Linked DNA regions of Homo sapiens: all the other regions are linked to region 2. The links come from fine-mapping of genetic effects on gene expression. A gene starts in region 2. Each other region holds a variant in brackets. All regions are shown on one strand. Distances are from middle to middle.

Region 1 (8,182 bases), 790 kb after region 2:
GCAGGCAGATTACCTGAGGTGAGGAGTTTGAGAACAGCCTGGCCAACATGGTGAAACCCCGTCTCTGCTAAAAATACAAAAATTAGCCAGGTGTGGTGGCACACACTTGTAATCCCAGCTACTCGGGAGGCTGAGGCAGGAGAATTGCGTGAGTCTGGGAGGCGGAGGTTGCAGTGAGCAACTGAGATCGTGCCACTGCACTCCAGCCTGGCCGACAGACCAAGACTCTGTCTCCCCACCAAAAAAAAAAAAAAAAAAAAAAAGCATTTACCAGTGTGTTAATCACCAGAGTGCTATTCAGGACCCCCATATAACAATTTCACAACTAAAATCTAGCACATTTCATATACTATATTCTTTACAAATAACAAAATAGAAGGGCAAAAGGAATATATCAAGCAACCTTTCTTTATTTCCTAATAACAGCTGTAACAAATAACTTAAGAGACATATGACAAGGGATATTACTTGCCACTCTACAGCATGGAGTATGTTTAAATACCATCCTCTGGTGGTACTGAATGATGATTTTTTGAGAAGCTTTTATTACTTCAGGATAAACAACTGTGAATGAGATTTAGCTAGACCTGCCTTTTACATGACTTATAATAGCTCACAATGTTGCAAGTTTCTTTACACAAGTAGTATCCCAAATCAGCGAGTTACCTTTTCATATCTTGTAACACATCAGGAAAAGTGCAGAAAAAAAAAACCTCCTCTTCTGCAGTAAGAAATAATTGGCATCCACAAGGATGCAATCAGCAAAATCTAGAATGTGAAAACCTCCATAAGGCAAAAGATGCAATTTCTTCCACAAATAAATTGCAAAAGGGGGAAAAGAGAGAATTAAAGACTTTAAACAATGTATCAACCAAATGCAATGTGTGGTCCTTATCTGAATCCTAATTAAATAGAGAATTAGAACAACCAAGTATATAATTTTTTTCAAAATAATCAAGGTAATTTGCACATTGAATATTTGATGATATGAAGGAATTGTTTAATTATTTAACATGTGATTATGTGGTTCATTTTTTAAAAAGGTCATTTGTTAGAAATGCATACTGAAATATTTACAGATGAAATTATATAATATCTAGAATTTGTTTCCAAATAATTGACTGTGGTAGCAGGAGGAAATAGGTGGGGTGGGGATATAGCTCGGCTATGAGTTAATAATGAGTTAGTAAATTGTTGAAGCTGGTTGGTAGGTACACATATGGGGGTTCATTTTATTATCATCTCTACCTTGCGTATTTTTTTGTTTTGGGGGTTGAAGAGGCAAGGTCTTACTCCATTGCATAGGGTGGAATGTTGTGGCTATTGATGATCGCTCAATGCAGCCTTGAACTCCTGGGCTCAAGTGATCTCGCCTTGGCCAAGTAGCTGGAATTACATGCATGCACCAACACACCCAGCTTTATGCAATTTTTTAACACAAACAGGAGCATAACCTACATTTATAAATACTATTTTGTTTATTGGTTTATTCACTATACAATCTTTCAGAATCTTTTTATGTGAGCATATATATGTCAATGATATTTGTTTTAAAATAAACTTTTTATTTTAAACAGTTTTAGATATAGAGAAATTATGAAGATAGTACAGAGTGGTCCTACATATCCCACACCCAGCTTCCCCTATTATTAACATTTTATATTAGCATGCTGCCTTTGTAACAATTCATTAATCAATATTGACATGTTATTATTAACTGAAGTCCATACTTCATTAAGATTGCTGGTCGGGCACAGTGGCTCACACCTGTAATCCCAGCACTTTGGGAGGCCGAGGCGGGCGGATCACGAGGTCAGGAGATCTAGACCATCCTGGCTAACATGGTGAAACCCCGCCTCTACTAAAAATACAAAAAATTGGCTGGGCGTGGTGGCAGGCACCTGTAGTCCCAGCTACTCAGGAGGCTGAGGCAGGAGAATGGTGTGAACCCGGGAGGTGGAGCTTGCAGTGAGTCGAGATCGCACCACTGCACTCCAGCCTGGGCGACAGAGAGAGACTCGGTCTCAAAAAAAAAAAAAAACAAAAAAAAAAAACCAGACTGCTTGATTGCTTTAGTTTTCACCTAATGTCATTAATCTGTTGTTCCAGGATCCCACTCGAGATACATTATATTTGGTCATTGTGTTTCCTTGGGCTCCTCTTGGCTATGACAGCTTCTCAGGCATTCCTTGTTTTTCATGACCTTGACAATTTGAGGAGCCCTCGCAGGTATTCTGCAGATTTGTCTGATGTTTGTCTCATGATTAGATTGGTGTTATAGGTTTTTGGAAGGAAGGCTACCTATTTCAGAGGGTAAAGTGCCATTTTTATCACTTCCAGGTGATATCACTTCCACATGCTAGCAACATAACATCACTGTGGGTGTTAACAGTGATCACCTGGCTGAGGAAGTGTTTGTCAGATTTCTCCACTGTAAAGTTATTCTTTGTTCATTTCTTAACAATTCAAAGATGAATTTATGTTTACTAATTCTTTCTTTTCCTAAGCCACTTCTAATTTAATCAGAGCTGGTGAAGTATTTCTTGAAATGTGTTAGAACACTGAGCTGGAAGAGTGAGATATTAAACTATAAATTCTGTATGATCTCAATTTTCTAAAAATGACATATACATATATATAGAAAAAGACTAGAAAGAAATAGCTCAAAGTTTTATTTTTTCCTGTATACTTTTCCAAAAATGTTCTGCAGTGAACAATTATTTTAAAATCTGGAAGAAGAGTTAAGAAAAAAAAAAGGAATGAAGATCTTTCTCTGGGACAAGCTCAGAAAAAAATATCAGAGTCCTCACAGTACCTGTAACACTAATGTAGCGCTCAGAATGGTAACAGCCTTCTCTGAAACCTGGTGTGTATGTGTGAAGACAATATTCCCAGCTGCCTTTCTTTGCTTACAGAAGACTGTAAATTGCCTCTTATGGAAACTTAACTATTTTTTCAAACAGGAACACTTAATAACTGAGTATAACAGAGACTGAGAAAAATGGAGGGAGGGAGGGTGGGAGGGGAAAAAGGGAGGAAGAAAGGAGGGAGAGAGGAACAACAAATTTAGGTTTTGGGGAGTGAGAAAATGTTCTGTCTTGTTGCTTCCCATCAAAGTACCCAGCATCACAGGATCCTAGCTAATATTATTTATTTGTTAAAGGTATTCATCAGTTCCAGACCAGTCAGTTTCCAGTCAGTTTCCGAATATCAAAAGCATGCTTTCCTAGAGGAAGTCCAAAATATTACCATGGGTCAGCATAAGCATATCTTAGACATATTAATATTAACCTTAGGGGCTGCTCATCCAAAATGGCAACACATCCCTCCCTGCCGGCTCTCCCCATAGTGCCCCATCTCCTCCCTCAGTGGTGGGGTCCTCATGGTTTGTGCAACTCTCTGGGGCCCACTTCGGCCTGTCCTACTCAGGATATTCCCTGCCAAAGAAGTGATGGATATATCATCGCTAAGGTGTCAATAACTGGAGTTGCCTAGAAGCTGCTGTTATACCTAGTATGAAGCATGTGCATTTGGGAAGGGGAAAATCAGTTATCCTAAAGGGATGAATCTCTAAAAGTAGAATGCAGCCATCATGATCCAGGAGAGCAGGGGAGATATGCACGCATGCACACATACATTCAAAAGGGGTTTCAGCCCACACTTCAGGTCACATCACACAGGGAGGAACAGTCTAGTTACACCAAGTGAGCCCTGTGCCAAGGAAAGAGCCCAGTGCCCTTATGGAGGAGGGAGCAGGCGCTTGGGCAAGAATGTCCGACTCCATGAAAGGGACTGTGTGCAGCTGGAGCAAATGCTCACTCATACACCCCACAAGATGAGTTCAGCAAGGCTGAGGCAAGCATCCTGAGTAGTGTAGAAAAATCAAACAGCTCACTCTGGACATTCGAATATAAAAAGAATAAAAATGCCTAGCTCCACAAAAGACACTGTCTGAAATGCGCTTCCTGTCACAGCCACCTGCCTTTCCATTTGGAGTCTGGGTTCTGTCTCATTAAACAGAAGAGTTGATTCAGTTGGGTCCATCTAATTATTCTTATTAAAATATGTAACCATAATATTTTAATTGTAAATTAAAGTTGCATGCATGAATGACTCTGAATTCATTTTAATTTCACAATGGCCCAATGCCAAGGCCTTTTTATGGAGAAGATCCATCAGCT[C/T]GGATACTGCTCTCCTGGGAATTCAAACCAATGTGCAAATGGAACATGCTTAACTAACAAGGGAGATTCTCACTCCCTTTTCTCCTCTTTCTAGATTTATTACAGTCATAAAGCTGTTTTAACAAGAGAGACTACATTTGATTCCTCACCCCCAAAATGTAAAAAAAAAAAAAAAATTACTAAATTTTAAGGTCAGTACTACCATTTAGACAGAACCAAGATGTCACTCCCAGGCTGTATGAATCTTGTTACGAGGATGGTAAATAAATCTCAATTCACGTGCCAACCTCATGATTAATTAGTAATGTTTGCTGTGGGTACTGAGAGAAAAGTGCTTCCATACTCACTGTACCCTTGGTCTAGATTCCAAAACAATCAGTCATACTGCATTTGGTCCTTACATATTCGATTAGGTGGAACCTGAATTACTTTCCACTAAACAACCAGACACTAGGATATGAAAGGCTTGACCTAAACCTTCTCTATTTCTAACTGGCATTGACTACAGGGTGCTGTTGAGGAGCTGATTAGATAAAAATATCTTTTATAGTTAAAGGTTTAGAAAGCTTCTTCTTGACTTCTAAGCCAATGCCTGAAGGATAAGTAGAAGTTAGCCAGTCAACACAGTACAAAGGCTAGGGGAAGAGATTATTCCAGGCAGTGGAAAAAAACATCTGTAAAAGTCCATGGGGGTCAGAGTGCATGGAGCATTCAAGGCTCTAAAATAAGCTCTGAAATAAGGAACAAGAAGTGCACTGGAGTGGTAGGTGGGGCACAGGAAAGAAGTCTGGAGAAAGAAGGAGGTTTGGATCCTGCAGAGTGCTAGAGACCACGTGCAGGTGTTTTGACTTTGTTCTAAGGGCAATGGATTTGACGCCAGGCGATCATTCCAGCTACACCAAGTGACTCTGCACACTGCCACACATGGGTGCTGGGAGGATAACTCCGCCCATGGCTCCTTTGGGAGGACGACCAGAAGCTCTGTCCTTGGACCCCACCTGACTGCCCATGCGTCCAGCTCTTGCTTTGGCTGGTTCTCGTTTGTGTTCTTTCTCTATAAAAAGCAGCGTCTGTGAGGATAATAGCTCTGAGTTCTGTGAGTTTTTCTTGTGAATTATTAAACTTGAAGGTGGTTCAGGAAAGCCCCAAGCTTGCAATTGGTGTTGAAGACAAGGGCAGTCCTGTGGGAACTATGCCCTTAACCTTGCAGTTTCATTAACTTCATGGGCGGGTATTTCCCGGAACAAGCAGCTTGGTCTCAGGATTACTTAAAATGAGATGGAAAAAAGCATGCCTGGTATAGGTATTGTGGAAGGTCACCTCTAGGGGTGGAAGTGAGGGGGACTGACTGGAAAAGGGCACACGGTACCTTCTGGGGAGCCAGAAACATCTATACTTTGATCTGAGTGGTAGTTACACAGGTATATAAAAATCCATTTAGGCCATGATCAGTGGCTCATGTCTGCAATCCCAGCTCTTTGGGAGGCTGAGGCAGGAGGACTGCTTGAAGCCAGAAGTTCGAGACCAATCTAGGCAACAAAGAGAGACCCTGTCTCTACTAAAACAAAAAGACAAAAATCCATTGAGCTACATACATAAGATTGGAACACTTTATGCATTTTACTATACATATTATAGCCCAATTTTTTTGTTTTTTGTGGGTTTTTTCTGAGACAGAGTCTCGCTTTGTCACCCAGGCTGGAGTGCAGTGGCATGATCTCAGCCCACTGCAACCTCCACCTCCCAGGTTCAAGAGATTCTTGTGCCTCAGCCTCCCAAGTAGCTGGAACTACAGACGCATGCCACTACGCCCAGCTAATTTTGGTATTTTTAGTAGAGATGGGGTTTCCCCATGTTGGACAGGCTGGTCTCGAACTCCTGACCTCAAGTAATCCAACCACCTCGGTCTCCCAAAGTGCTGGGATTACAGGCATGAGTCATGGTGCCCAGCCAATTATTTTGGTTTTTGGTTTTTCGTTTGAGACAGGGTCTTGCTCTGTCGCCGGGGCTGAAGTGTGGTGGCGTAATCTTGGCTCACTGCAACCTCTGGCTCCCAGGCTCAAGCAATCCTCCCACCTCAGCCTCCTGAGTACATAGGACCACAGGCACAGGCCACCATGCCCGTCTAGCCCAATTTTTAAAAGTTAAAAAACAAACCAAAACACTGCCTTTGAAAATGGGGAAGCCCAGCCTAGAGTTAAGGGATGCAAGCAAGGCTGGACTGCTGAGAAGAACCTGAAGCCAAAGATAGGGCTGAAATTAAAGATGTGAGAGCTAGCAAAGGACTTTCTGGAAAGATTCTCTGAAATAAATGGTTTCATGCTTTCCACTTGTGCAGGGTGAGCTGGGACCATGTGACTGTGTGAATGTGTGACTCGTGTGCATGTGTGTGCACGTGTGTGTGCACACTCCCTAGACAGGCCCCTGTGCTGCTTCTCCACTTCATCAGCCTCACCAAGTGATGATGTGCACTGCACCACAGCAGGCAGGGCAATGCGTACTGCCAAAGGAGGGACACTCAGCCGGGGCTGGCATGAGGGCTGTCCTACGCTCCTCCCAGTCAGGGAGAGGCTCAGGGGGCGGGCATGGAGGCCTGGGAAGCCAGGCTGCAGGCAGAAGGGCCAGTTTTGCCAGTGTTGTATGAAACCAAGCCCAGGCAACAAGTGGGGCAAACCTGAAACTAATGGCAGAAATTCCCCTGGGCTGCTACCTGAAGGAAGGAGAATTCAGGGATGAGTCAATGGAGTAAAAAAGCAGGAAGGCAGACTGGATGGATACTGCTCCAAGCCAAGGGGTGGGAGGCAGAGCCTGGGAGAATTCTGAGTCACGAGCTGTGGGTGGGAATGTGCTCCACAGCTGAGTCACTGGAACCCAAAATGAAGGCTATGCAGGCACCAATGGTGGGAGTAGAGGAGCAGGTACAGGAGGGTGGGCCTTTGGTCTTTCATGAAACCTCCTCAAGCAACCCATGGGTTTATGGTTCGCAAATGAAGAACTAACCTGTGTGAATCAAAATAAGTGGGTTATTTATTTTTGGATTTGTGATGACATACCTCTTTCTGTTGTTCCGGAAACATCTTCAGCACAGGACACGATCAATCTGAAAAATAAGATATCCACACTGGGTCATTTGGAACCTCCAAACTGGAGTGGATACACCACTCATGGCCTCCCACCCAAATCCCCTGACAGAGCCCCCCCCGCCCCACAGTCCCTGACATGTGAGCCTCTGCTCCTCCCACGCTGCCCTCTCCTGCTGGCAGGACCAAGGTGAACATCAGTCCACACCAGGGGTTAGGAGTCTGGACCCCAAAGAGTCCAAGGCAGCTGGATGATGACAGACCTTCAAACCGCAAGGCCAGCCAGTCAGGCTGGGGCTGGAGCCTTAGTGAATTGGCGAGGAAGCTGGAGATGCCGGGGAGCAGAAGCCATGTGCGGGGGGATGCTGGCTGGAAAAGACGCGCAGAGAGATCCACCACCAGAGGCAGCCCTGACGCTTTTACCGGAAACTCAAACCTTCTGGGATCAGGCCCTTCCTGTGACACTTATATTACTCCAGAGGTCACATAAGAGATGGTGTGGCCCTCAGCGGGATAAAGCCAGGACCTTGACTCTGACCTTCTGAGCAGTGCAGCCAGCCTGTTGTTTGATTCCAGGCCCTGCATGTCTCTGGGGTTGTCAATTGTTCTTTAAACCCACTTGGTATGTAAGCTCATTAGATTTAACACCTGCTCCCTGCCAAAAACAAAAAGCAAATTTAAATTCCCTGCCTATATCCACACATATGTATTCTTACAACTGAGGGTGACTATGACTGCAGGTCTACTATTTGCCTTCACTTTGATAATATCAGTATGTGTCTGAGCCCACTTTCCGGGTCCCTATTATCCCCCACACGTATTCCCAGAGTCTCTATACTCATGTCACTGGCACCATAGGGAACACAGGGAAGCAGGAACACAGGCTCCGCTTCCAGGGCCGTGTGGAGGTGCAGACGAGAG
Region 2 (8,182 bases):
GGAGGCAGGAAAAGAAAGAAAGAAGGAGGAAACAGAGTAGAAAGAGGAATAGAGAGAAAGAAAGGATGAAAGAACCAGCAAAGTTTCTTTGGCTTCTTAAAAGAGAAGAAAAAATCAGTTCCCAATGGGGCTATCAGGCCATGGCAGAGGAAGGGCAAGGCCCCAGTGTCCATGTAAGCTGACACCTTAGGGGAGGATGGGGGCACTGGCACGTATATGAGACCTGTGACAGGGACAGCCTGAAGAGAGAGAGAGGCTGGTGGGGAGGGACAGCCTGTCCATGCACCCTGAGTACCCTGCTCAGCTTCCCAAGCCAGAGGGCCTTTTGCACTGCGTCACTGATAAATACCCTTTGCTTCCCAACCCCCTCTCCTTTCTGCCCTTCAGAAACCCGTACAGAGAGGTGGCCATTTGGCCTCTTCCAGTGTCTCCCCAAAGCCTTGGAGGGCCACAGCCCCAGACTCAGGATTTTTTTCTCTCTCCTCCCTCATCTCCCCCGGCTTCTACTCAACTGCCCACTCTTAGCCAACTTCTGCCCTCTTCTGAGCCCATGCCTGAGCTTCATACACCTGTCTTGGAGGGACCCCCCACCACCCTTGGGGAACTTTGGCACCAGATCAGACAGCCCAACACAATCCTACATTGCCAGAAATCCTAGACTACCTATAGCTCCATCTCTTAGCCTCTGGTTTCCAAGGACTCCACAGGGAATCCCAAAGACTCCTAGGAATTCCCTAGGACAGAGCCTAATGCGGATTGTTAAAATTATAATGTTTTCCATTAACATCCACTTTATCCTTGGGGGAGTTCTGCATTTCTCAGAAGGGTCATATAATTTGGGAGAATGTGTAAAGATTCAAGAGGGCTGACCATTTTTAACTCTTCAAAAAATGTGTTGAGTTCCGACATGGCTGGTCACAGTAGCATCCTCAGAGAGACCACTATGAATTCAGAGTGTGTACACTACTTACATGGTTCCACACCACCCACCCCAGACACACACACACACACACACACAAACACACACACACACCCTGCATCCCCACAAAAACACGACCTGGGCATCCCAAATTAAGAATGCTCATTCTGTTATTTTGCTTGTAATGGTTTTCCTATGAGGCAGATTTTTCAAAAACGATAATGTCCACCCCAAGTCGTTATAGGTGGAAAACATCTCGCTTGGTATGAAATAATCTCCCATTCAGTATGCTTTGGGCCCCAGACATAGTGGGAGAGGCTGGAGTGGAGGCGGGGTGGTTTCTAGTCTGGGTGCCTCTTGTGGGAGGCACTGGGCTGACTGGGTCAACCCTCCAGGCCCTGGCTTACCGGCGCCCGGCCGTTTCTGCTCGTAGGTGCTGTGTATGGGAGCCATGGGCGCCGAGGCCGCCAGACCTACACGCGCTACCAGACACTGGAGCTGGAGAAGGAGTTCCACTTCAACCGCTACCTGACACGGCGCCGCCGCATCGAGATCGCCAACGCGCTCTGCCTCACCGAGCGCCAGATCAAGATCTGGTTCCAGAACCGCCGCATGAAGTGGAAAAAGGAAAACAAGCTCATCAATTCCACGCAGCCCAGCGGGGAGGACTCAGAGGCAAAGGCGGGCGAGTAGATGCCTGGGCAGGGACCAGGCCAGCGCTGCAACCTCCTTCGGCTTTGCCCCCTTGCCCTCGCCTGTTCCCCAACTTTTCTCCCCGCCTGCTCCCATCTGGGGGCTTCCGCAGCTTCAGGGGAGCCCGGAGCTTTGCAAGCGTCTGTGCATTTATTTCTTACAAAACAAAACAAAACAAAACAAAACAAAACAAAACAAAACAAAACAAAACCTCACACACAGCCAATACCAGCGGTGGAGCGGGGCGCACTGCACACACCCAGTCCCGCTCCACAAGGATGCCCAAACCGGCTCCGGAGTTCTGGGGTGCGCCCTGAATGCGTCTGGGGCTCCTGTGCTAGTGTCTCTGAGCTCCCCGACCTCGGGACGCGGGGCTGCTGGGGAGGAAAGAGCCCTGGGCCGAGCCCCGTTTCGTGTCTGGGCGTCTCTGCCTAAGTCCCTCGCCAGTAAGTCCCGAAGGGCATCATCAAATCATCTCTGGCCAGTGGAAAGAGGGGGTCTAAGAGCTGGAGCCCGGCCTTGTCGCGGCCTCCCAAGCCGCCTCCCAGAACAGGAAGGAAGCTCGAGGAACAAAGGGGGCCCCAACAGAGCCCAGTCTCTCGGTCCCGCGTGTGCAACCGTCAGTGGAAGAGAAGCAGCCTCAGCCGAGGCGAGTTAACCTGGGCGCGGGTGGAACATTACAGCCCGGGGTAGGCTCCCGGCTCCGGATTCCCGCTCCCAGCCTCCGATAGCGCCCGCGTCGCCGCCACAGCAGCGTTCAGGACCCAACGAGGGGCCCAGGGCCATGGGAGCCGCCAGAGTCCTGGCTTCCAGACGTGCCAGGGGCGCCTGCAACGCCGGGCCTCCAGCGGGGAGACTCCACTTGCCTCTCAGCTATATTTGTGATTTACTTGAGTCTTTCGGAGCCGTGGAAAATAACTACAGAGATACTAGGCACTGCCAAGGAATGCTTCCATTATCGCCCTCATTTTACTCCTGGAGGTCTAAGCAAGACCCCAGTAACCCGCCCCACGGATCCCCAGACCCCAGGCAGCCTCTGTGGCTGCAGGGAGCCTGGGCCCACTCGCTGGGTTCAAGGAGAACCCTCCGACTTGGGGCCCGGCTGGCTCGAGGAACCGGACCCTGTGATGAAGATTTTCCAGGCTGGATACGTAAGCAAATCAAATCGCAAACTAATGACACGAAAACCATATTCACACGAAAGAAAAATCGACTACGGTTATAAAAGTGTATGGAATTTGACCTCGCCTTGGAGAAACACTACACAAAAGCTATCTTTAATAGACGCCTGTCATTTAAGAGCGGCAGGGACACTGTCCCTCATGCGCTCGCAAAAACAGAGCCGTAATTGTAGCTGCTGCTGCTGCGGGCAGGATTTATTTCTCCAATTGGCTAAATGGCTTTCCCCCTTCCCCGAAGGTGATATCTGTATTTTCAAAATTCAGAGCTGCTGGCAGGACGGTCAGTACCGACCCCAACCTCGACACAAAAATAAGAGGGGCTGCAAAACGGGGGAAATAAAGTTGTTGTAAATAAAATGCAAGTCACCACCTCCCCCCAATCCTCTGCATCCTCGCCGGGCGCGCGATCGGCAGCTGACGGCCTAACAATTGGTACATCCTAATGGAACTGCGAGGGAAATGCAATAATTTTGCCATAATGGGCTGTAACCTCAATTCGACCCCGGCCCTTGCAGCCCCCGGTCGGAAGCTGGGCGATGAGCCCTGCCTCCAGCGGGTGGCGCTCGAGTCCGGCTGAACGGCGGCAACTGGCGGCGGGCACGCGCCCGGGGCGCGCGCGCCACCCCCCTCGCCTCCACCCAACTCCCCTATTAGTGCACGAGTTTACCTCTAGAGGTCATCAGGCAGGATTTACGACTGGACAACAAAAGCACGTGATTCGAAGTCGTACCCCATATTTGGGTGCCTACGTAGGAGGGAACCAAGTACATGTCCCAGTCATTTCCATAATTCATCATAAATTGTGCAAGGGTGCTATAGACGCACAAACGACCGCGAGCCACAAATCAAGCACACATATCAAAAAACAAATGAGCTCTTATTTTGTAAACTCATTTTGCGGTCGCTATCCAAATGGCCCGGACTACCAGTTGCATAATTATGGAGATCATAGTTCCGTGAGCGAGCAATTCAGGGACTCGGCGAGCATGCACTCCGGCAGGTACGGCTACGGCTACAATGGCATGGATCTCAGCGTCGGCCGCTCGGGCTCCGGCCACTTTGGCTCCGGAGAGCGCGCCCGCAGCTACGCTGCCAGCGCCAGCGCGGCGCCCGCCGAGCCCAGGTACAGCCAGCCGGCCACGTCCACGCACTCTCCTCAGCCCGATCCGCTGCCCTGCTCCGCCGTGGCCCCCTCGCCCGGCAGCGACAGCCACCACGGCGGGAAAAACTCCCTAAGCAACTCCAGCGGCGCCTCGGCCGACGCCGGCAGCACCCACATCAGCAGCAGAGAGGGGGTTGGCACGGCGTCCGGAGCCGAGGAGGACGCCCCTGCCAGCAGCGAGCAGGCGAGTGCGCAGAGCGAGCCGAGCCCGGCGCCGCCCGCCCAACCCCAGATCTACCCCTGGATGCGCAAGCTGCACATAAGTCATGGTAAAGCCAGCCTTTTTCTAAATCCACGCGACCGCGGGGACGCGGCTCTCGGTCCCCCCTCTCTTCTCTGCCGCCCTCTCCCAGTCTCTCTTGGTCTCATTTCTCCCAGCCCTGCGGAGCTCTCCTTGCCGTTCTCCCTCCCCTGCCTTCCTCCTTCCTCCTCTTCTTTGCGAGCACCCTGCGCTCACAAATAGTGGGGGAAATGGGCGTTCTCTGGGACAGTTTAGACGTTGGAAGGGGGAGGAAGCAAAAAACCCCTCTGGAACCCCACGCCTTGGGACGCGCTCCCGGGTCAGGCCAGCCGAGCAAGGCGCAGAGAGGTAGAGGATGGCTGTAGCAGCCGTGAATCGGGCTTGTCACGGCGGATAATTTATGAGGAGGGCTACGCTGGGGAAACAGCGTTACTAATTACAGCCCCCGAAAAGGGGCTTGGGGGAAAGAATCGAGGCGAGAGCCTGCAGGATTCTGAATTTTGGGGGCAGGAGGGAGAGAGAAGGAAAGGGAAGAAAAAGAAAACAGGCTCCCCAACCCTGCAGGCTGGAAACGGGAGGCGGCTCTCGGGGCTGGAACTTTGAGGGAGGGTGACCCGAAGGCCACTTGGGCGCTCAGGAAAGGGCCTTGCTTCCTGGGTTTCTGTGCGGTGGGCAGCCTGGGAGGGCTGTGCCTCCCGATCGGGGCGCCCGGGGCAGGGCGGAGGGGGCAGGAGAGGGGCCAGGGAAAGCCGGAGTCCGCCGGGACACGGCCCCAGCCTCAGATGGGCAGATTGTTCCCAGGGTCCAAATCGTATTGTTTTCTTTCTAGAAAGGAAGAGAGAAGGAAATTCGGGAGGGGTGTGCGGGCTGGTAGGCAGAACTTGTTGAGCTTTTCGCCTGGGTTCCCTGCTCATGACCCAAGCTTGTCCCCCTGGCGGACTTTGGAAGACAGGAGTTGGTGGCTAAACCGCTGACTTTTCTATTGCAGACAACATAGGCGGCCCGGAAGGCAAAAGGGCCCGGACGGCCTACACGCGCTACCAGACCCTGGAGCTGGAGAAGGAGTTCCACTTCAACCGTTACCTGACCCGCAGAAGGAGGATTGAAATAGCACATGCTCTTTGCCTCTCCGAGAGACAAATTAAAATCTGGTTCCAAAACCGGAGAATGAAGTGGAAAAAAGATAATAAGCTGAAAAGCATGAGCATGGCCGCGGCAGGAGGGGCCTTCCGTCCCTGAGTATCTGAGCGTTTAAAGTACTGAGCAGTATTAGCGGATCCCGCGTAGTGTCAGTACTAAGGTGACTTTCTGAAACTCCCTTGTGTTCCTTCTGTGAAGAAGCCCTGTTCTCGTTGCCCTAATTCATCTTTTAATCATGAGCCTGTTTATTGCCATTATAGCGCCTGTATAAGTAGATCTGCTTTCTGTTCATCTCTTTGTCCTGAATGGCTTTGTCTTGAAAAAAAATAGATGTTTTAACTTATTTATATGAAGCAAGCTGTGTTACTTGAAGTAACTATAACAAAAAAAGAAAAGAGAAAAAAAAACACACAAAAAGTCCCCCTTCAATCTCGTTTAGTGCCAATGTTGTGTGTTGCACTCAAGTTGTTTAACTGTGCATGTGCGTGGAAGTGTTCCTGTCTCAATAGCTCCAAGCTGTTAAAGATATTTTTATTCAAACTACCTATATTCCTTGTGTAATTAATGCTGTTGTAGAGGTGACTTGATGAGACACAACTTGTTCGACGTGTAGTGACTAGTGACTCTGTGATGAAAACTGTGACTCCAAGCGGTGTGTCCCTGCGTGCCTTTATAGGACCCTTTGCACGAACTCTGGAAGTGGCTCTTATAAGCGCAGCTTCAGTGATGTATGTTTTTGTGAACAAAGTTACAAATATTGTCCAAGTCTGGCTGTTTTAAGCAAACTGTGATCAGCTTTTTTTTTTTTTTTTTTTTTTTTGTATTTGTTTTTAAGGAAAAAATACTGACTGGAACAAAAAATAAACTTTCTATTGTAAGTTCTCTTGGTCTGGTTTGTGCCAAATAGTGAGCGGCTCTGTCTGCTTTTCTGTCTGTCTGTGCAGTCTTGGAAGCTGTTGGGTCTGAGGCTACCTGAGCAGATGACCTGTGCAGGGAGACCTCATACCAACACTGTCCCATCGCTTCCCTACCTCTGACCCATTGCAAAGTTCAGGGCAGAAGGTGGAAAAAGCTGTAGGCTGTTCCAAAGCCCCAGAACACCCTGTCCATCTCTGAGGAAACCAAGTTAACTTGCTGGGTACAAAAAAGAGAGAAAGAGCAAGAAAAAAGGAGAAAAAACCCAGGGCTTTGTTAGCCGCCCTCAGGCCACACAGATCCTGCCTCTTTCCTAAGGCTGTCCTAGGCCTCCACTTGCTGAAGACGCTGCTATGTCTGTCTGTGGACCCCAAACCCTCTGCCCTTAACCCATCCCAGCACCCCTTCCCCACTCTTCACCCGGGACCCAGTTGGCTTCTTTTGCTACAATTAATTTGCTACAAATTGAAGGTACTTACCCCATCCTAGCTCGATTGGGAAACTCCTCAGAGCAGCTAAAGCGCAACTAGAGATTTGCACATTTACCGACTGCTTACACTGATGCCGTCTTTCCTTTTAAAAGTTATAAAACAGTAAACTTTATAAGCCCCAGTTCCGGCTATATGACATTTGGGTGCCAAATGAATAGGGTTTTGTCTATGAATTAGATCGTAAAATCATCCATAGCACAGACAGATCGGCTCACTGGCTATAAAACGTCACGTGGGGCCATTAAAGTAAGTTTTATGGTTTTGGGGAGTTGACATCCAACATTATATACCACATAACATATAATCTCACTAACGCTGGACTCCATTTGACTCTTTTGCAGGCTACGTGTGCCGCCTGGCCATTCAAACTGTCAATTTTAGGTCCAGAAGTGTCCAAACCACAAGTTCTCAAAACTCTCTGAAAAATGGCTCCCTCCGAGTTAAGGTAAGCTCGCCTCCTGAGCGCTTTCAAGTTTATTTGTACTTTGGAAACTTTCTCTCTCTCTCTCTCTCTCTCTCTCTCTCTGGTTCAATAACTCAGGCTGCCTCTGAATTCGAAAAGGCAGAGCAAACTTTCCCTCTGCCCAAAAGAGCAGCGCCAGGAGCCAACTCTGCGGAGGCAGCAGAGTGAGCAGCGCCTGTGGCCGCGCCGCATCCCCAGGCCTAACTTTAATTGCAGCACAACCGCGGATGTTAATGACTTCCGCTGCTCCCGCCGGCGTGCAAAAAGATGATTTTTGTGTGCGAATGGGCCTGTGTGTGGGGACCTGGCAGGGCCGCACCCCCAGTCCCCCGCGCAATTGCTGGGCCGGCCGGGGCCAGCTCCTGGGGGTCGCGGAGCCCTGGGGTCGGGGCTGGGAGACAGTGGGGCGCCGGCCGCGGGCGCCGAGGGCCGCGCTGCGCTCAGGAGTTTGAAAGAAAGGCCGGGGCAGGGCCGAGGCGGACTCTGGCGGGATTCCTTACGGGGCTGTGGCAATATGTCTTCGCGGGCCGGGGTCATTTGGCAGGGCTGAATTGAGGCGGCGGCCTTCGGGGCCGGGTTTCAGGCTAGCTCGCGAGAGCGGGAGGGTGGCAGAGGCCGGCGAGGCTGGGGCTGCACCTCCAGGCTGGGCCCCCGGGTTGCAAGGTGGATCCTGGGCTGCTAGCGCCCACTGGACCCTGAGGACCAAGGATCCCCACCCTGGTGTGGGGGGGTGTTCAGGACCCCCTCCCCCGCACCCGGGACCAGGCCCTGAACCCTGTTTGCCTGCATGTTCTTTTTATTTCGGCGGGACTGTTCTCAGCCGCTTGTGAGTCTGAAGCAATAAACTTTATGGCCGGATTTAACTTTAGTCTTTGAATCCCCAGGCTAATTGAAAGGGGTTAAAGCGCTTTCTTTTCTTCCGCTTTGCCTTTCTTCTCCCTCTCTTCTTTCCTGTTCCTCTCCTTCTTTGTAGAATT
Region 3 (8,182 bases), 230 kb after region 2:
AATCATTGCCCTTGTCTGTGCTTCCTGGAAGACCAAAGGTAGACTGTTTTCTGAATATTTCCAGGGAAAGAGAAAACCACCTTCTTTTGAAGTTCTATACCCTATTTAAAAATCTAACCCTAATCTAAACATTAGATTATCTCTAATTTTATGTTTAAAAATTTTAAGCCTCCCAGTTACAAATGCCAGTAATGTGCTGTCTTTATCTACAGAATAAGCATCATGAATAAAGCGCAAATGTATTGTAGAGAGCTGGAAGAGCCTCAGACACCAGGCAAGTAAATCAAAACAAAGTATTGTTAATGATTACCCTGGATACTTTAAGAAGAATGTAGAAGATCAATAGATCTACAGAACATTAATCCTTCTAGAAAATGTGAGCATCCTAGATTTTATTTGTTTAAGATTGATACAATTGAGTTATATTTTTGTGAGCCTAATGGAAGAGAATCATGTCATCTCTCAGGAAAGCAATCCTCTCAGCTGTGCTGACCAAGGTTCCTCTAATTCTTTCAACCAATGAAGTAGTTGATATATTCTTGTAAACTTTCTGCGGGCAATTTGTCCATTATTGGGCCTGAACTTGAACAGTTGGAGAAAGAAAGAAAAATTAAACAACTCCTCTTACATCAAAATAATATAACTGAGTCTCGTTTTAATAAAATCCTAGAGCACATCCTAGAGTCACCTAGCAAGTAACAGGTACTCAATAAATGCTCTTCTAGTAAATGGATGAAAATCTAAATTTGTGAAAAAGATCAATAAAACTGTGATCATTTACACTCCCAAAAGACTTATCTGCTCATTTGGTTTAGAATGCCGACTTTAAATGTGGATCTTTTCACTAGTATTACGGAATAAGAATGTGAGCTTTTTCTTTTGAAGTTACTTAGTCCTTTTCCCCATCTACAGGGTTATACTTATCACCTCAGCAGCTTATCACTTTATCTATCATGCATATGAAGAGAGGGCTTCTAGTTCCTGAATTTTCATAAGTACCAATACCTAATTTAAAAAAATAAAAATCTGCTGGACCACCATGATATATAGATTTAAAATGTGCTTTAATGTATTATGACTTAGCATACGTAGCTTTCCCTCCAACATCTGTATCCTGATTTGTAGTCTAATAAACCTTCCTGCTGCAGATGGCACGTTCATAGTTGTTCTGAGGTGTAATACATCAACATAGCATTTCTAAACAGAGAGCAATAATGAATTCAATTAGGGGAGGAAATAAAACATCGAGCCTTTTCTTATAATAAATCTTTTACTAAGCTTCCCACATCACATGTTTGCTGAGGAAATAATACATGTCATTCAGATTAAGGGTTATTGTAGACTGCTGAGGGAAACATGAAATTCTGGAGGTTTCAGCAGTCCTGTGAAACCCTGAAACATGGAAAGTGTACAAATTAGAAAAGGATGTAATATGTGACTAATGATACCTCTTGGGATACCTTTGGAAACCATATTTACTGTTATGATCACTAGATTCATTTAAGCTACAGGAGTTGAAAAGCAATACCCTAGTAAGTGAAAAACACCTCTGAGTTCATTAGATGTGGTTGTAATTTAAGCTCTAAAGGCCTTTTTCCTTGCTGTCATTCTTTATATTTCTGGAAATGTGGTACTTGAACTCCTAATAAAAGTAGTCTACATCATGTTCATATAATCTACAGTTCCTGGAAAGCACATTTACACCTCCACATCTGTAGCTAAAGCTGGGACAGAACAGAAACTTAATTCACCCCAGATGTCACCCACTAGAAGTTCTGGAGTAGGGCTGCTGTTCTTAGAATTTTCTATCCACTGATTATGTCTCAAGCAATGGTTTAAATATTCAACCCAGAGTCTCCAAGCCCAAATGTTGTAAACTGTTTCCATATACTATGCCAAGTGCAAAATTAATTGAATTCCACAAAGTTAATCCCCAATCCTGTTCCTTCATTTGTGGAAGGAAATAATGGCTATTTTGACATTATTTAGACAGATAATTCCAAGTCCTTTTGTCATAAGCATCTGAAAAAGAAATTTTGTTCTTCTGGCTTGGTAAGGTATCAGTCCATACTGCTTATAAAAAGATTACATGACAATTTCTTTGGAAAAAAAAAAGGTATATGTATATCATTTGGGCTGCTGATCACCAGCATAGCATGTGATGAATCAACATAATCAGACAGTCAATTTCTGTCTAATGATATTCTTAATCTGCAATAATATTCTTCGTTCTTTAGCTTTGAATTCTTCTACTCCTCAGTTGGTATGGAATCAGTGTTCCCATCCCCAGGTCATATACTTGATTGGAGGGGCTTTAACGGACAAAATAAGATCAGTGCTTTAACCATAGGCTTCTCCACAGTGAGCAGAAATCGAGGCGGGTACACCTTCATTCACACTCTAACCTATTTATAGTTTTTAGTTTTGCCTCTTAAATTCATGTATTTCTTGGCGTCTTGCTTAGAGTCACCTTTTTGACACATGAGTCCTGCCAGGTATGTGGGTTAGTGAGTCTGTACAATTTCTCAGGAGGCCTTGGTGATGCTGCAGCTTCTTAGTTGTAGTTCCAGGAAGGCTGCTGCAAGCACATTGCGCCTTATGAATACTGGAGCTTTCTCTAGAGAGAAACCATTTGTTGCTATGTCAGGTCAGATACAGAAGCCAGATTATCTAGGCTCAGTTGGTATAACTACTCATAAGAATTACTACTTATTAAGAATATCCTCAAGATTTATTAAGGGAACAATGTAAAAATGGCCATGTGAAAATAGTTTTGCGTTTTTGCAAAATTCCTGTTAAAGGCATTGCGCATCGTGTATTTAATAATAAATCTGAGGCCAGGCGCAGTGGCTCACACCTGTAATCCCAGCACTTTGGGAGGCCGAGGCAGGTAGATCACAAGGTCAGGAGTTCAAGACCAGCCTGGCCAAGATGGTGAAACCCCCATCTCTACTAAAAATACAAAAATTAGCCAGGTGTGGTGGCGGGCGCCTGTAATCCCAGTTACTCCAGAGGCTGAGGCAGGAGAATCGCTTGAACCCAAGTGGCAGAGGTTGCAGTGAGCAGAGATCGCGCCACTGCACTCCAGCCTGGGTGACAGAGCAAGACTCTGTCTCAAAAAAAATAAAAAATAAAATAAATCCGAGACTCATCCGCCCGACAAATTCCTCTCAAAATATGTCTCCTGAAAACCTGATGTGTATTTCTCTGTTAAACATTGAGATCTGTGAAACCCTTTGAATTCTCCCTTCTGTATTGACTAAAAGTTAGAGCTAAACTTCATGCTTAATGGTACTAATAATTTTATTCTAGTTTCCTGATATACATTTTCTTTCTCCTTCCTCTGTGGTGGTCTGTGGAATGGTGTTGGTGGTCTCTGAATGCCTGAGTTAGTATACAAAAGTGTGTGTTATGTGTTTTGTTTGTTTGTATATACTTATTTGCATTTTCTGGGGAAAGAGCACAAAGTTTTCATCAGATTCTCAAAGGGATGCATTATCTCCCCAAATTTAAGGACTATAATACTATCTGGTGTTTTATATTTCTGATCTCACCTTTAACTGTTCTGTCTTTATAACAATTATGTTTGCATTATAAACAACCTAAATCCTTTTTCTTTTTTTTTCTTTTTTTTCTTTTTTTGAGACAGAGTCTTGCTCTGTCGCCCAGGCTGGAGTGCAGTGGCATGATCTCAGCTTACTGCAAGCTTGGCCTCCCAGGTTCATGCCATTCTCCTGCCTCAGCCTCCCTAGTAGCTGGGACTACAGGCACCCGCCACCACTCCTGGCTAATTTTTTGTATTTTTAGTAGAGACAGGCTTTCACTGTGTTAGCCAGGATGGTGTCGATCTCCTGACCTTGTGCTCCACCTGCCTTGGCCTCCCAAAGTGCTGGGATTACAGGCGTGAGCCACCGTGCCCGGCCCCTAAATCCTTTTTCATGGGGAGAGAGGGAAGGAAAAGCTAGATGGCAGTAAAAATTAAACAAATACAAATACAACAGCATATTTTATTGTCAAGTACTCAGTCTGTTAGTAGGTATGATTTTGGGGGGCTTTCTCCCCACTAGAAATAATGGACTACATCGGTATGGTATACATCTATATGAAAATGTAATCTGATGTCTTTTAATTTTTTTTCCTGGCTTAAGAAAAAAAAAATTATCTAGACAGGTCTATCTAGAAGGTCTCCTATATGAAGCATCTCCTAAATACTATAGGGAGATTATGTACATAGAAAATTCCTTTACCATGTGACATTGATATACATATTGACTTGGGAAGGAAAAACTCCACTGTGTTGTACTTTTTTCTTTTTTTTTTTTTGAGGCTGAGTCTCACT[G/C]TGTTGCCCAGGCTGGACTGCGGTAGCGCCATCTCCGCTTACTGCAACCTCCGCCTCCCGAGTTCAAGTGATTCCCCCACTTCAGTCTCTCAAGTAGCTGGGGTTACAGGTGCCCACCACCACCCTTGGTGATTTTTTGAATTTTTAGTAGAGTCTGGGTTTCAGCATGTTGACCAGGCTGATCTCGAACTCTTGACTTCAGGTGATCTGCCTGCCTCAGCCTCCCAAAGTGCTGGTATTACAGGTGTGAGCCACCGTGCCTGGCCTGTGTTGTACATATTAATGTGAGATTTTAAAGACAACTCCACAGGACTTGCCTTGCTAATTTGGAATCTTGTTCAGAGAAAAAGACTTGATGAGAAAGGATCTCAGGAGATCAAATAGTAACACCATACCATTGGAGGAGCAGATATATTGCCCCTTAGAATAAAATATCTTCTATCTTGATTTTTCAAAATAATTTTTTATGAACATATTGTGAATTACACAGGACACCAACTCTGCTGCTTTGGGAGCAAAAAGACAGAGCTGACAGATGTAGATATTTGCCAGGAACAACCATGTGAATTTATAAATATTTTACAAGTGCAGCTTTCAGAAGAGTGACTTTTACTGCCGTATTAATGCAACTTGCAAATTTATAGTCTGGGCACTTGTGGGTTATGAATGTCCAGTATTCAAGGCTAGTGCCAAGAACATAGTTTATGTTTTGAAATTCTTTTTTTCTCTGATTACAGACTTCTTGGCTGTTAAGATCTACATTATAATTCAGCTGCACATGAGGTGCAAGGCTACATAATACATCAGTTTCCACTCCCAATGGCTAGACTCATAAATATACTCATTACAACACACTTCATGTGACAGAATGACATACAAAGCATAAAAATATCTCTATAGAGTAGAGAACTAGTGGTAGTAGAAGCAACAGTAGCATGATTCCATGCCTCTGGCCAGACCCATAATATGTGACCTAATATTATAATTATTTGTCATAATATAAAGAAAATTTGAATCATACGTTTTTAGAAATAATATCTTAGTATATATTAGATCAACACACTCATGAGTGTTGTCATATGTATTGAAGGCTACACTACTGAAAAGAATTTAGTTACTCTAATCTTTTGGCAGGGAGATTATGGAGGAAGAAGCACCACTGCAACTCTTTCCTTGTAAGTTTCTAAGTTGCTTTTCCACTGATTGTGCCCAAAGTAAAAGAGTCTTTCTAGCATTCCAGGCTCTGGAGAAAGAGAGCAGATTTATCTGGGCTTGAGCAAAAAACAGCCTGGGGTGAAATCTTAAAGGTGACCAGACTTTGGTCACATGTCAGAGGGTTCTCCTTTTTCAAGATGTTATTATGACCTAGGCAGAATTGTTGCTGTTGAAGAAAGTTAGCACTGTTGCCCAACCTTTCTGCCTTCCATTAAGTAGCTCTGTTACCTTGTACACATCACTTCTCAGGTTCATAGTTCCTCTTCACTGAAATGTTGAAGTTGTGCCATATGATTGCAAAATTCTTTCCAGCTGTAATTTTTTTTTCTAATGCATGTGTGCCAACATATGCAGATATTGATTAACAATACATTATAATCTTCAATATTAGTTATTTTATCAGTGTGCACATTTTCATTCTCTGAAACCCATCAGTGGCAAAATGCTTCACTGTTTTACTCCCCAATGTCCACCATTTCTTGCTCTGTATTAAGATTGTGTATTATTCCTAATAATCATTGGGACCAGATGTGGTGGCTCATGCCTGTAATCTCCGTAATTTGGGAGGTCAAGGCAGGAGGATTCCTTGAGCCCAGGAGTTTGAGGCCAGCCTAGGCAACATGGCAAAACTCCATCTCTACAAAAAATACAAAAATTAGCCAGGCATGGTAATGCATGCCTGTTATCCCAGCTGAGGTGGGAGGATTGCTTGAGCCCAGGAGGTCAAGGCTGCAGTGAGCTGTGATCGAGCCATTGCACTCCAGCATGGGTGACAGAACAAGACCCTGTCTAAAAAAAAAAAAAAAGAGGTTATCAGGAGTGTAAACTTAAATAATGGGGAATCTTGTGTTCTTACAAAAAAATTTGTGATTAGTTCAGTGAGTAAAGCTTTTCCAAATTACCAAAGCTAAATAAATAAATAATCCTTGTTTATTCCAAGGCTTAATCCTACTGAGGCCCCCAACCTGATTCCTGATTAATCACGCAGCAGACAGCAGCTTCTTCTTCTTCTTCTTTTTTTTTTTTTTTGGAGACGGAGTCTTGCTGTCTTGCTGTGTCACCCAGGCTGGAGTGCAGTGGCGCGATCTCTGCTCACTGCAACCTCCGCCTCCCGGGTTCAAGTGATTCTTCTGCTTCAGCCTCCCGAGTAGCTGGGAATACAGGCATGCTCCACCATGCCCGGCTAATTTTTGTACTTTCAGTAGAGATGGGGTTTCACCATGTTGGCCAAGCTGGTCTCCAACTCCTGACCTCATGATCCACCCACCTCTGCCTCCCCAAGTGCTGGGATTACAGGCATGAACCACCATGCCTGGCCAGCAAACTGCTTCTTATTAGCTGACCTTATACATTTCAATGAAACAGACTGTGAAAAATGACACATACACACAGATCCCAGGCAGTAATTATATTAAAAAATACTTTGTTAATTGTTTTACAGGCACCATTAGCCTTAAGAATAAAATTCCGTCAACAGCAAATCCTTTTTCTTTCATTTGCTTCTAATCTAAGGGATAAACATAGTCAAATGCTGTTATTGTTACCCAGGAAAATTTCAGCTTTAAAACTGATTGAATCCATTTTTTTTTATCTTATTATCTTAGAACATAGCAATTTTAAAGAACACAGGTAGAATGATAGCAGTCCATGATCCAGACAGTGTCATATATCCCTTGTTTGTTTTCTTTCTTTTCTCTTTATCTTTATCCTGAAATTTCCTTTCTGTTCTACTGTGAAAGTAAAAATCTGAAAGGAAAATAATTACCTATTGATACTCTTCTAACACAGCCACATGTTCACGTGATAAATGAAACATTACCACACAAAACTGCTAAAATGACATTCTTATTGGAGGTCCAATTTACTTAATTTTATGTCTTCCAACTGTTAAGACAAGGGTCACTCATTCTGTAAAATTAATGGCTGAAATAAATTTAGAATTTAAAAAGCATAAGGAAAATATTTCTTTGCCCAATGTATGGCCAACCTGTGGAATTTATTAGCCTGGGAGGTCATAGATTCAGTCAAGAGATGAATTAGAAAAGCTAGATAATTGTATGACCAGTCATAATACTGTTAGTTATGAATACTAACAAAAGGTACTAATAGAATCTCATGCTTCAGGGTACAAGCTGATCTCCGCTCACTAGGAGCTTTGAAGGACTTCTCTTATTTCCTTATGATGCTCCTCTGAGCAAGTGGCTGGATTCACATTGAGGTTTTACCTCTTTTTGAAAGTAACTACTATTGGGAACAGGATACCACATTTAGGTCACATTGGGGTTTTGTTGTTGTTGTTTGTGCAACAGCATCTTGCTCTGTCACCCAGGCTGGAATGCGGTGGGGCGATCATGACTCACTGCAGCCTTGACCTCCTAGGCTGAAGTGATCTTCCTGCTTCAGCCTCCTGAAGTGCTGGGATTACAGGCATGAGCCACTATGCCTGGCCTGTGTTTTTTGTTTTTTGGCAATGAAAACCACAAATGTCTGCTAATACGATACAAAAAGAGCAATGAAATGATACGTGAGTTTAAACTTTTTAAAGAGTTTATTCATTAATTCAATAAATATTTATTGAGGGCCTATCATGAACCTATCACTGTCCTAGGTGTTTGGAATACAACAAGG

The links.
Region 1: its variant is fine-mapped to the expression of HOXA5 in sigmoid colon (GTEx, PIP above 0.99).
Region 3: its variant is fine-mapped to the expression of HOXA5 in whole blood (INTERVAL, PIP above 0.99).

Annotation. Positions count from the first base shown.
Region 1 is chr7:26,345,519-26,353,700 of GRCh38, reverse strand. SNX10 (sorting nexin 10) reads right to left here. Exons shown (of 7, transcript NM_013322.3): 2 at 7,235-7,281. The coding sequence starts at 7,258. Among named protein-coding and RNA genes, the nearest start is that of LINC02981, 49 kb to the left of the region's middle. RefSeq lists enhancers at 5,091-5,240, 7,167-8,094. The variant C/T (reference allele first, on the strand shown) is at 4,182.
Region 2 is chr7:27,139,088-27,147,269 of GRCh38, reverse strand. It overlaps HOXA5 (homeobox A5), which reads left to right and starts at 3,589. Exons shown (of 2, transcript NM_019102.4): 1 at 3,589-4,224; 2 at 5,185-6,218. The coding sequence starts at 3,663. The coding sequence ends at 5,435. It overlaps HOXA3 (homeobox A3), which reads left to right. Exons shown (of 6, transcript NM_153631.3): 2 at 7,084-7,187. It overlaps HOXA6 (homeobox A6), which reads left to right. Exons shown (of 2, transcript NM_024014.4): 2 at 1,353-1,874. The coding sequence ends at 1,612. It overlaps HOXA-AS3 (HOXA cluster antisense RNA 3), which reads right to left and starts at 6,906. Exons shown (of 3, transcript NR_038832.1): 1 at 6,731-6,906. RefSeq lists an enhancer at 7,182-7,760.
Region 3 is chr7:26,910,103-26,918,284 of GRCh38, reverse strand. No RefSeq gene overlaps it. Among named protein-coding and RNA genes, the nearest start is that of SKAP2, 50 kb to the right of the region's middle. The variant G/C (reference allele first, on the strand shown) is at 4,340.